Regions from separate parts of the Homo sapiens genome. Here regions 2 and 3 are each reported to be linked to region 1. Evidence: microRNA targets listed by miRTarBase, many of them from high-throughput screens and not tested one by one. Region 1 holds a microRNA gene; each other region holds the end of a gene's coding sequence.
Evidence for each region. The annotated mature microRNA hsa-miR-6780a-5p reads UUGGGAGGGAAGACAGCUGGAGA and lies in region 1 at 1,597-1,619, opposite strand. An mRNA with a match to its seed (bases 2 to 7 or 8) in the 3' UTR can be bound and repressed. Matches are read on the target gene's strand: a 7mer-m8 pairs with bases 2 to 8, a 7mer-A1 pairs with bases 2 to 7 and ends in A, and an 8mer does both.

Region 1 (3,309 bases):
ATTAAAAAAAAAAATAGCCATGTGTGGTGACACCTGCCTGTAGTCCCAGGCTTGATGGATGTAGGGGGATGAATGGCTTGAGCCAGGGAGGTTGAGGCTGCAGTGAGCCATAATTGTGCCACTTCTCTCCAGCCTGAGCAACAGAGCTGAGATCCTGTCTCAAAAAAATTTAAAAAATGAAAAAAAAAGCAGGTATACTAATAAGAAGTGTCCCCTAGAGATTCCCCAACAATCCTCTCCCTCCCACTGAGGTGGAGAGTACCCCAGAGAATATGAAATCAGTGTGTTTCACTGGTAAATTGTCACCATCAAAACAAGTATCATTTTGAGAACAGAATGCATCCGTTCTATGCCATCCTTCTCCACCCACTGCCCAACCCAGCGCAACCACTTCTCTGCTGCGGCTAAGATCACTATCTGCTATGGGTTAGGAGGTATTTCCTCCAGCAAAACCGCCTGGGCACCAAGTTCTGCAAGCTGTGGGGACTGCCATCAAACTGCTCAGCTTTGAGTTGGGAAGGGCATGGTGGGATAAGAAGTAAAAGATAAGTACCCGGATGTCTCTGCTGACATCCAGGCCCCTGTCTTCTACCTGATATTAAAACTCCAGCTATGAAATGAAAATAGACATACACAGAATCACAAACAAAAAATATCTGAATAAAAAATTTTTTAAAACAGTATTCAGAAAAGGGAAACTGGGGCTGTAACTTAAAAAAAAAAAAAAGAGTCCCACATTTCTTTTCTTTTTGAGACAGAGTCTTGCTCTGTTGCCCAGGCTGGAGTGCAGTGGCACAATCTTGGCTCACTGGCAGCCTCTGCCCTCTGGGTTCAAGCAGTTCTTGTGCCTCAGCCTCCCAAGTAGCTGGGACTACAAGCATGTACCACCATGTCTGGCTAATTTTTGTATTCTTAGTAGAGACGGGGTTCACCATGTTGGCCAGGCTGGTCTTGAGTCCTGACCTTAAGTGATCTGCCCGACTTGGCCTTCCAAGTGCTGGGATTATAGGCGTGAGCCACCACACCTGGCCTAATTTTTTTATTTTTAGTAGAGATGAGGTTTCGCCAAGTTGGCCACGCTGGTCTTGAACTCCTGACCTCAAGTGATCCGCCTACCCAAAGTGCTGGGATTACAGGCGTGAGTGACTGCGCCTGCTGCCCCCCACATTTCTTAATTCTCCCCTAGAAGACAAAGTTGGGAAAGTATCTGATTTCTGTGTAATTGCTGCTTTTAGAATCATGAACCTAAACGTTTTCCAGAAACGACTCTCCCAGATCTCATGCACTTATTTCATTTGTAGAATCCCTAAAACACAGCAAAGGGGATATCAGAAGGCCATAAGCAGTAAAGGGCACAGGAATGGGGCAAGCCTAGGGCACACTGGAGCCAACTGTTTTGGTAGACTATACAGAAAACGTAGCACACTTACAGTCTGGGTTGCACTGGCAGAACTTCTCACAGAAATTCTGAGTCATGATGCAGGGGCAGGTGCTGTCACAGGGGCGGTCTGGGTGGTCGCAGGGTTGGTAGTTGTACACTTGTGTGGAAGAGTTATCTAGGAAAGAAAACAGAGGAGGATGCTGCTGTGACCATACTCTCCAGCTGTCTTCCCTCCCAAGTGTCCAGCTGCCCTGATTCAGAGGAGGCTGGTCCTAACAATCTCCTTGGACACACATTTAGCACCTGAAGTGAGAAGACAGGGATGACCGTTGTTCATAAGCTGCAGTGGGGTGATCTGCTTTGTGGGGAGGGTGTGGAGATGGTCTGGGACAACAGGGAAGCTATTCTAAACATTAAATGAGGTCTGGAACCTAGCAAATGGCACACTAGAAAAGTCACATACTGGCCAGGCACAGTGGCTCACGCCTGTAATCCCAGCACTTTGCGAGGCCGAGGCAGGTGGATCATTTGAGGTCAGGAGTTCGAGACCAGCCTGGCCAACATGGTGAAACCCCGTCTCTACTAAAAATACAAAAATTAGCCAGGCATGGTGGTACATGCCTGTAATCCCAGCTACTTGGGAAGCTGAGGCAGGAGAATTGCTTGAACCCGGGAGGCGGAGGTTGCAGTGAGCCAAGATTGTGCCACTGCACTCCAGCCTGGGTGACAGAGCGAGGCTCCATCTCAAAAAAAAGAAAAATCACAGACCACAAGGCCCTTAATGTTACCTCCTAAGAGGTCTTCTCAGTTGCAGTGAGAGGCTCAGCTGTTCTCAGTTGCTGCAGAGAATTCTGCAATCTGCGGAAGTGGCACAGGGTCAACAAGTGCAGCTGGAGGTGGGGTAGGGTGATGACCACAGAGTGAGGCCTCCAGCTGAACTGCTGAAGAATGCCCTGGTAGAACTTACCTTTCTTCAGCTGAATCTTCCTGCAGTGTGCAGCCCACAATCTGAAAAAGACAGGAAGGACAGGTCTCAGTCACGGCCCTAGGGAGCTCTGCAAATGCAGGTAAATGACAACGTGACTTGCTCTGAGGGACTGTGTTTGATGACTGGGGAGTATCTTCCCAAACCCCTCAACAGGACGACTTTGGTACACAGAAGCTAGAGTCCATCCTAAATCCAGCTGGCCTGTGCTACAAGAGTTAAACTTAAACACAACCCCTCCCAAACAAGCAAATAACATAAAAGAACACAACACAGAAATAAAAGAAAGCCCAAGCCTATTGGTCTATTATAAAGCTATTGTTTCTCTCCAAATCTCTCCCTTTGTCTTTGTGGAGGTGGAGATATGGGGGAGTTTCAAGATGGGGAGGTGGGAAGGCCTTTCAGGAATCTTCTCTGAAAGAACTGAAAGGGAGGAGCCACAGGGATTTCCTTCTGTATCTAGAAGTGGTGTCAGCTCCTTCCTCTGATAGGTGATAGTCACTAGGGAACAGGGCCAGGGTGCAGAATTTTTTTAAAAACTTCCAACCTAAGTAAAGGCTATCATGTAACTCAGAAAAACAACACAAACCAAACAAATAAATAAACTCTGATCAGAGTTGAGAAATGGGTAAGGTGGTAACAAAACCAACAAGGAGAAATGGCTTCAGGGTGGAGCCATGAGGCCAGCTCATGTCCTATTGGCCAGAAGCTTAAATAGAAAAACAGACAGTTATGGTCCACAGCACTGGGGGACAAGAAGAGGGCTGATCTAAGGCACAGACCCTCAGGGAGCACTCAGGAGGCTGGCTCTCAGTCATGTGATGCCAAGCTGATGGGCTCACACAGCCTGTGCGGTTGCTAAAGAGGGAGGCAGATGGGAACTCCAAGGGGAGGTCAGAGCACAGGGAACAGCCTGGCTGTAAAACAAAACACTTTGTCCAAC
Region 2 (3,000 bases), not on the chromosome of region 1:
ATAGTGCTGCTATTCTTATTTTGATATTAATCTAACTTTCAAGTTAGTAAGCTAATGATAATGAGCTAACAGATTAATAATAAGGAATAAGAAACTAATAATAGCAGATAAGTTATGGAAAGAAAATAAAAGGCCAATCACATTGACTAATGAAGCCCAAAAGCATGATTAACTAAGATTTCTTATAATGCACTGAATAATTCACAGCATAACATAATTCAGATTTGTTACATACCATATAAAAGCTATTAGTTGACATGGCTAAATTCACCTAAGAGCCAACCTACCTTGTAACTATTAATTTAATTTAAAGCCTTGCTGTTTACTCCATCATTTCTGCCAAATGTAGTCCAAATTGGGTCTCAGCATATTCAAGAAATCAAGCCACAGAAATGTGTACTTGTATTGCTAGGCTCCCTGCAATATTAAAGATTTTGCTTTCTCTGAAGATATTCTGAACCATGATCATCTTTAAGGCACTTCAAATACATTTCTGACCACTAAATTTAAGTAGATACTAATTAATTACTGCCATATTAACAATTCATCACGTAAGCCACAGGAGGCAAGAGTCTCATAAGGAATTGCCTTCACAACCACAGAGATTCCAGAGGTGATCTGAATGAAACACGCACCAATGGCCAGATCCAAAAGGAAAACTACCTAGACTTCCTCAGATAAAAGTCAGGATCTTTAGGAATTAAAACAGGAAGGGACACTATAAAGGAAAAGTGAGGTTTTTTCTTTTTCTTTAACGTACTTCTTTTCTTTGAGCTTCTTGGTCAAATAATTTCAAGGTACATGCTAATAAAAACTACAAATCAGATTTTTGCCTTTAGTGAAGGTGCCTAAAAAGCCAGATGATCTATGACTTTGAGGTGAAACAGCAAAGATAAAGATTTAATGTTCCTGTTATTGTTATAATTAAATACAATGCTGTGGAAGTTAGCATTTCCTCAGAAGTAATTCACAAATATATTTTTATCCTTATCTAACATACAGTGACCATTACTAAATAAGCATTACATGCATGCAGTTTGGCCAAATTATGGAACCTTTTCTGTAATGTGAACTTATTTCAATATAATTCCTGCTTGGCTAGATTCTGATTTGATGTTTAATCAACTTATAAAACCCTAGTGACTGGGAAATGTTAGAAAATTTATCTATAATTGGATCATAAAGTTTTTATATATTTTAAAACCTCTTATTTAGAAAGAGTATCAATAATATCATTTACATATAATTTCTAAAAGAAGAATAGACTTAATTGTTGACAACAATGGGAAGGAATCAAAAGGCAAATTAGGCTGGGTGCGGTGGCTCACGCCTGTAATCCCAGCACTCTGGGAGGCTAAAGCAGGCTGATCACCTGAGGTCAGGAGTTCGAGACCAACCTGGCCAAAATGGTGAAACCCGTCTTTACTAAAAATATAGAAATTAGCTCGGAATGGTGGCGGGTGCCTGTAGTCCCAGCTACTCGGGAGGCTGAGGCAGGAGAATTGCTTGAACCCAAGAGGAGGAGGCTGCAGTGAGCTGAGATCGTGCCACTGCACTCCAGCCTGGGTGACACAGCAAGACGCCATCTCGGGAAAAAAAAAAAAAAAAAGCAAATTAATTATTTTATACTTTAAGACATTTTCAAAGATGGAATCAGACTAATTTGTAGCATATAAATGGTAATGTTTATCCATAATATTTTGGAATTCAGGGGTCTGTGAATCATGTAACCGAATACTAAAGCTATATACACGATATAATTTAAAAGAATGTACACTGTGTACAAGTACACAAAATAGATGTAGAAAAAATAAACAGCAATTTATTGCTATATATTTTAGTATTAACTAAGAATAAGTGGGGTTCTTTTTCTCCTTTGTACAGAGATTTTTCTTTCACTAGGAGCAACAGCAAAACTATCTTTAAAAGGACAAATTTCAAATATAAAAATGGCCTACATGATTTTATAAATTGATTTTTCCTTTAAAGTTTTGATGAAGGCATAATTTTGTGACATTCAAGTAACCTTTAAAACATACTTTTATTCCATCGATACATCTGTCAAGGTTTTGGGGAATCAACCCAACAATGAAGAACTACACATTTTGAACTGGGGTTTTTTTTTGTGATTAAAAAAAAAAAAGAGCTTCTTTTTGCTGCATAAAATAAATCTAAAGGACTGAATTATGGTCTACCTGTACAGCCATTATACATACATACATTAAAGTACTGGACAATAACCTGTCACCTAAGAAGTATAACCGACCGCATTTATGAACAAACGGGGAAAACACATTCTCTAGTTCTAATAAATCATATATTATGTGTATGAAAGCTAGGTTACCAAAAACACATCAACACACACACCTATTTCTGAACCACCAAAAAGCCTCAGGGAAGCTAAAGAAAACACATATTCTTGAGGCAGGCAGGACAGTTGGCTTCCACTTGATGAAGACATGCTTGACTGAGTGATCCTGGGCAAGATGCATGGAGGAAAAAAATCAATGCCACCACCCATTGGCAAAAGAATCACTTTTGTCTAACCTCCTATCATCTTGTAACCTAGAGATGGCCTAAATCTAGACTGAACTTCTGTCTACAGAAATAGCCCTTTAAATAGGCTTTTTTAATAAAAGAGGTCCTAAACTAGGTTCCTCTCCTACTACTAGATAACTATGTTTTAATTTATAAATATATGAATGGGTACCTCTTTTCCAAGCCATTCAATATCTACCAAAATTAAGTAGAATTAAAGCAGTAAAAAAATTGTGATTTTTTAGCTGTATACATTAGGGGGTCACCAGATTTCATATTTTCCCATTTTTAAAAAAATTCAGAATTTCTGTGAATCTTGCTGGAAACGATTTAGTTTCTCTGGATTATTGGATGCCATTTGGGAAAAATCACGAAATATGTCCTGATAAGTTTCATCACCTGCATGAAATAAAATAAAGACACTTTAAACATTTACACAAGTATTAATCAAACAACATTCAT
Region 3 (3,000 bases), not on the chromosome of region 1:
CCTCGCCTTGGGCTCCTCAGCCTGGAGGCAAGGCTTGTTAAGACCCCCAGGAGGGTCAGGCAGTGGTCCATGTCTGTAATCCCAACAGTGGCTGGCTGAGGCGGGAGTTCCAGACCAGACTGGGCAACACAGCAGGACTCCATCTCTACAGTTTTTAAAACTTAGCACAGTGGATCATGCCTGTAGTCCCAGTGCTTTGGGAGGCTGAGGCAAGATCGCTTGAGGCCAGGAGCTCAAGACCAGCCTAGACAACATAGCAAGACTGTTTCTAAAACAAAATTAAAGTTAGCTGGGTGTGGTGGTGTATGCCTGTTGTCCCAGCTACTTGGGAGGTCAAGGCTGCAGTGAGCTGTGATCACACCACTGCGCTCCAGCCTGGGTAACAGAGCAAGACCCTGTCTCTTGAAAAGAAAAAAAAAGAAACCTCCCCAAGAAGGAAGGGGCTTGGGCCCAGGCAAGGCTCCGGCACAGGGCAACATGGGAGCCAGAGACTGGGGAGAAGGCAGGCTCAGGGTGTTTGAAACCAGCTCAGGGCCTCGGGAAGGAGCCTCCCAGGTGTGAGGTGAGGGGGCATCATCCTAGGACCCATGTATCACTGAGATTATCCGGGAACAACGTAGGGGGAGAGGAGAGCGAGGGCTTTGCTTTCATTTGTATCACAAGCAGGGAGTAGGTGTAGGTGTACAGGCACCCAGCTCTTGGCCTGGAAAATGTTCCCCCATCGTCTTCATGGATAGGTGTGGCAAGGGGCTAAGGCCAGGCCACTGGGGGTACCCTTGCAGGCAGAAGGGGCTACCTAGCTACCTGTGCTCCTGGAGGCCCCCAGGTCTTCAAGAAGTCATCTGAGGGGCACAGCCTCTGGAGTGTGCCAGCCTTGGGTGCTGGGGAGGGTAGGAAAGAGGCCAGAAGAGCAGCCTGGAGACTTGGTCCCCTGGCCAACAGTTTCTGCTGAATCTCTGAGACATCGCACCAAAGCCCTCCAGAGTTGGCCAGTGGCCTTGTAGGGGGCAGGGCAGGCCATTGTGCCTGCTAGAGAGGGGAGCCCTGCCAGTCAGGAAGCTGTCACCATGGAGCCTGGGGGCTCAAGGGGGCAGAGGCAGGTTTGTGTCCCCGCTTCCTCCACTGGCCGATGCACAGGCCCTGAGGCTGGCAGGACGGTGGAGCCCGCTGGAGGTTGGAGCGGGGGCAGCCTTAGCGCTGCTGGCCTGGTGCCCACACCACCTTCTGCCTGGCTGCCCCACCTCCCACCTACTCATGTTTCTGTGACCTGGGAGGGTTCACCTAGGGCAGAGCAGTAGGCACCACAAGGGCTCTCCCACCCTCAGTTCCCAGGCTGGAGGCCCGACCACAGCCATAAATCAGGGAACCCCTGAGCCCAGGGAGGCTCCGTGCTGGGCTGAGCTGGCAGAACAAACGCGGCGCTTTAGCTCGGCCTCCATGCCCAGCTGGGCCGAGGATCCCCAGGGGCCTGTCTGGTCCCACTGGCCAGCGCTCTGCCTGCCTGGTAGAGCTGGGGCTTGCCCCTGGCCAGGGCAGCACTGACCCCACACCCCCCACCTCCCCACCCCAGCCCAGCAAGGGCCACGGCTCCACCTTAGGCCCCGTTTCCTCACCTGGCCTGCGGGGTTCTGGCCCACTCCTCACCCTCAGGACACTCCCTGCTGCGTGGGGGCCTAGGCTAGAAGGAAGGGTGCCCCAGGTCAGGGGACACCCAGTGGGGAGATGGGAGGAGGGGTCAGGATGGACAGTGGGCCCCATGGCAGCCCCCACCCTGACGCACCAGCAAGAACTCAGGGCATCTGGGCAAGGCCCTCTGCGCACCACCTGGCTGCCTCTGGAACCTTCCCACCCAGAGAAGGGGAATGCACCTCTGGTCCCCGCAGGAACCTGTCTTGAGGCACCAACAACACGCTACGAAGGACTCAAGCCCAGCAAGAGGAAGAGAGCCAAGGACACAGGTCAGCATCGCAGGCACCTACTCTGGAGTCCAGGAGCAGGGATACGGGGGCAGAGGATGGAGCAGCTGGGACCTCAGGGAGAGGTACGCAGGTTGCCATGGCTGCGTCTGCAGTCCACCTGCCTTTCCACGCCAGGGAGTCAGTGATGTGGAGCCCCCTGGGCCCCAGTGGAAGCAGCGATCAGACTATGTGTCCTTGAAATAATGTTTATTCCACGCTGTCCCGACAGCCCCCTCTGCAGGTCCCCTCGGTGTACTCTGAGGTGGGAAACCCTCCCTGGGGGCGGTGAAGGGGAACTCGGGCCACCCCACCAGCCAGCAGATGCTCCAGCAGCCAGAGCCCCAGCCTGGAGCTGAGGCTCTTCCTGGGGCTCGCCGGGCCCCTGCAGGCTTTTCGGACCCTCAGCCAGCCCGGCTTCCTCTGCTTTGGGCAGCAGCAAGCTGGCCCTTGGGCACCTGGACTGCTCACCAGCCGCCCAGCCATGGGTCCTGCTCTCCAGGTTCCTTCTAGCAGATCCATCTCTGTCAGAGCAAGGGACTCAGGCCTGGACCATCTTCTGGGCTGTCACTGGGGCTCTCAGTGGCCATCCCAGCTCTGCGCTGGCCCTTCTGGAGCGTGTAGGCAGACGGCCCCAGCCGCAGGATCTTCCCGCTGCCCAGGCACTCGTCCCCCTTGTAGAACACAGCAAACTGTAGGGGAGAGACCCTGGCATCAGGGGTGCCACAGGGAGCCAGCCGAGGGCAGGCAGGGGCAGAGTGCTCCCCTATGGGGCCTGGCCTGTGCTCGGAGCACCAGGCACTGAGCTCCCAGGGGAGCAGGGTTTTGCTGCTGCTGCTGCTGCTGAACAGGAGAGGAGAGGCCTGGGGCACCCAGTGGCTTCACTAGGGAGGGTCTTCAGGGTACCTCTCCCTGAGTGGGACAGTCACAGGGGCCTCTCCTGGGACTCCAAGGGACTGGCAGGTCTCTGCACCCCTTGGGAATGTGGAGCTGTGACAGGAAGGAGCATGGTGGCAGCCAGAGGATGCTTCCGCTTCCCTCACCC

Region 2: miRTarBase lists ACAP2 as a target of hsa-miR-6780a-5p. Seed matches in the 3' UTR shown: 7mer-m8 at 1,348-1,354.
Region 3: miRTarBase lists TRMU as a target of hsa-miR-6780a-5p. The part of its 3' UTR that is shown has no 7-base or 8-base seed match.

Annotation. Positions count from the first base shown.
Region 1 is chr17:42,706,528-42,709,836 of GRCh38, forward strand. It overlaps MIR6780A (microRNA 6780a), which reads right to left and starts at 1,624; the gene lies at 1,557-1,624. It overlaps EZH1 (enhancer of zeste 1 polycomb repressive complex 2 subunit), which reads right to left. Exons shown (of 21, transcript NM_001991.5): 14 at 2,349-2,389; 15 at 1,431-1,556.
Region 2 is chr3:195,276,492-195,279,491 of GRCh38, forward strand. ACAP2 (ArfGAP with coiled-coil, ankyrin repeat and PH domains 2) reads right to left here. Exons shown (of 23, transcript NM_012287.6): 23 at 1-2,937. The coding sequence ends at 2,837. Among named protein-coding and RNA genes, the nearest start is that of XXYLT1, 6.8 kb to the left of the region's middle.
Region 3 is chr22:46,356,489-46,359,488 of GRCh38, reverse strand. It overlaps TRMU (tRNA mitochondrial 2-thiouridylase), which reads right to left. Exons shown (of 11, transcript NM_018006.5): 11 at 2,149-2,647. The coding sequence ends at 2,483. Among named protein-coding and RNA genes, the nearest start is that of TRMU, 22 kb to the right of the region's middle.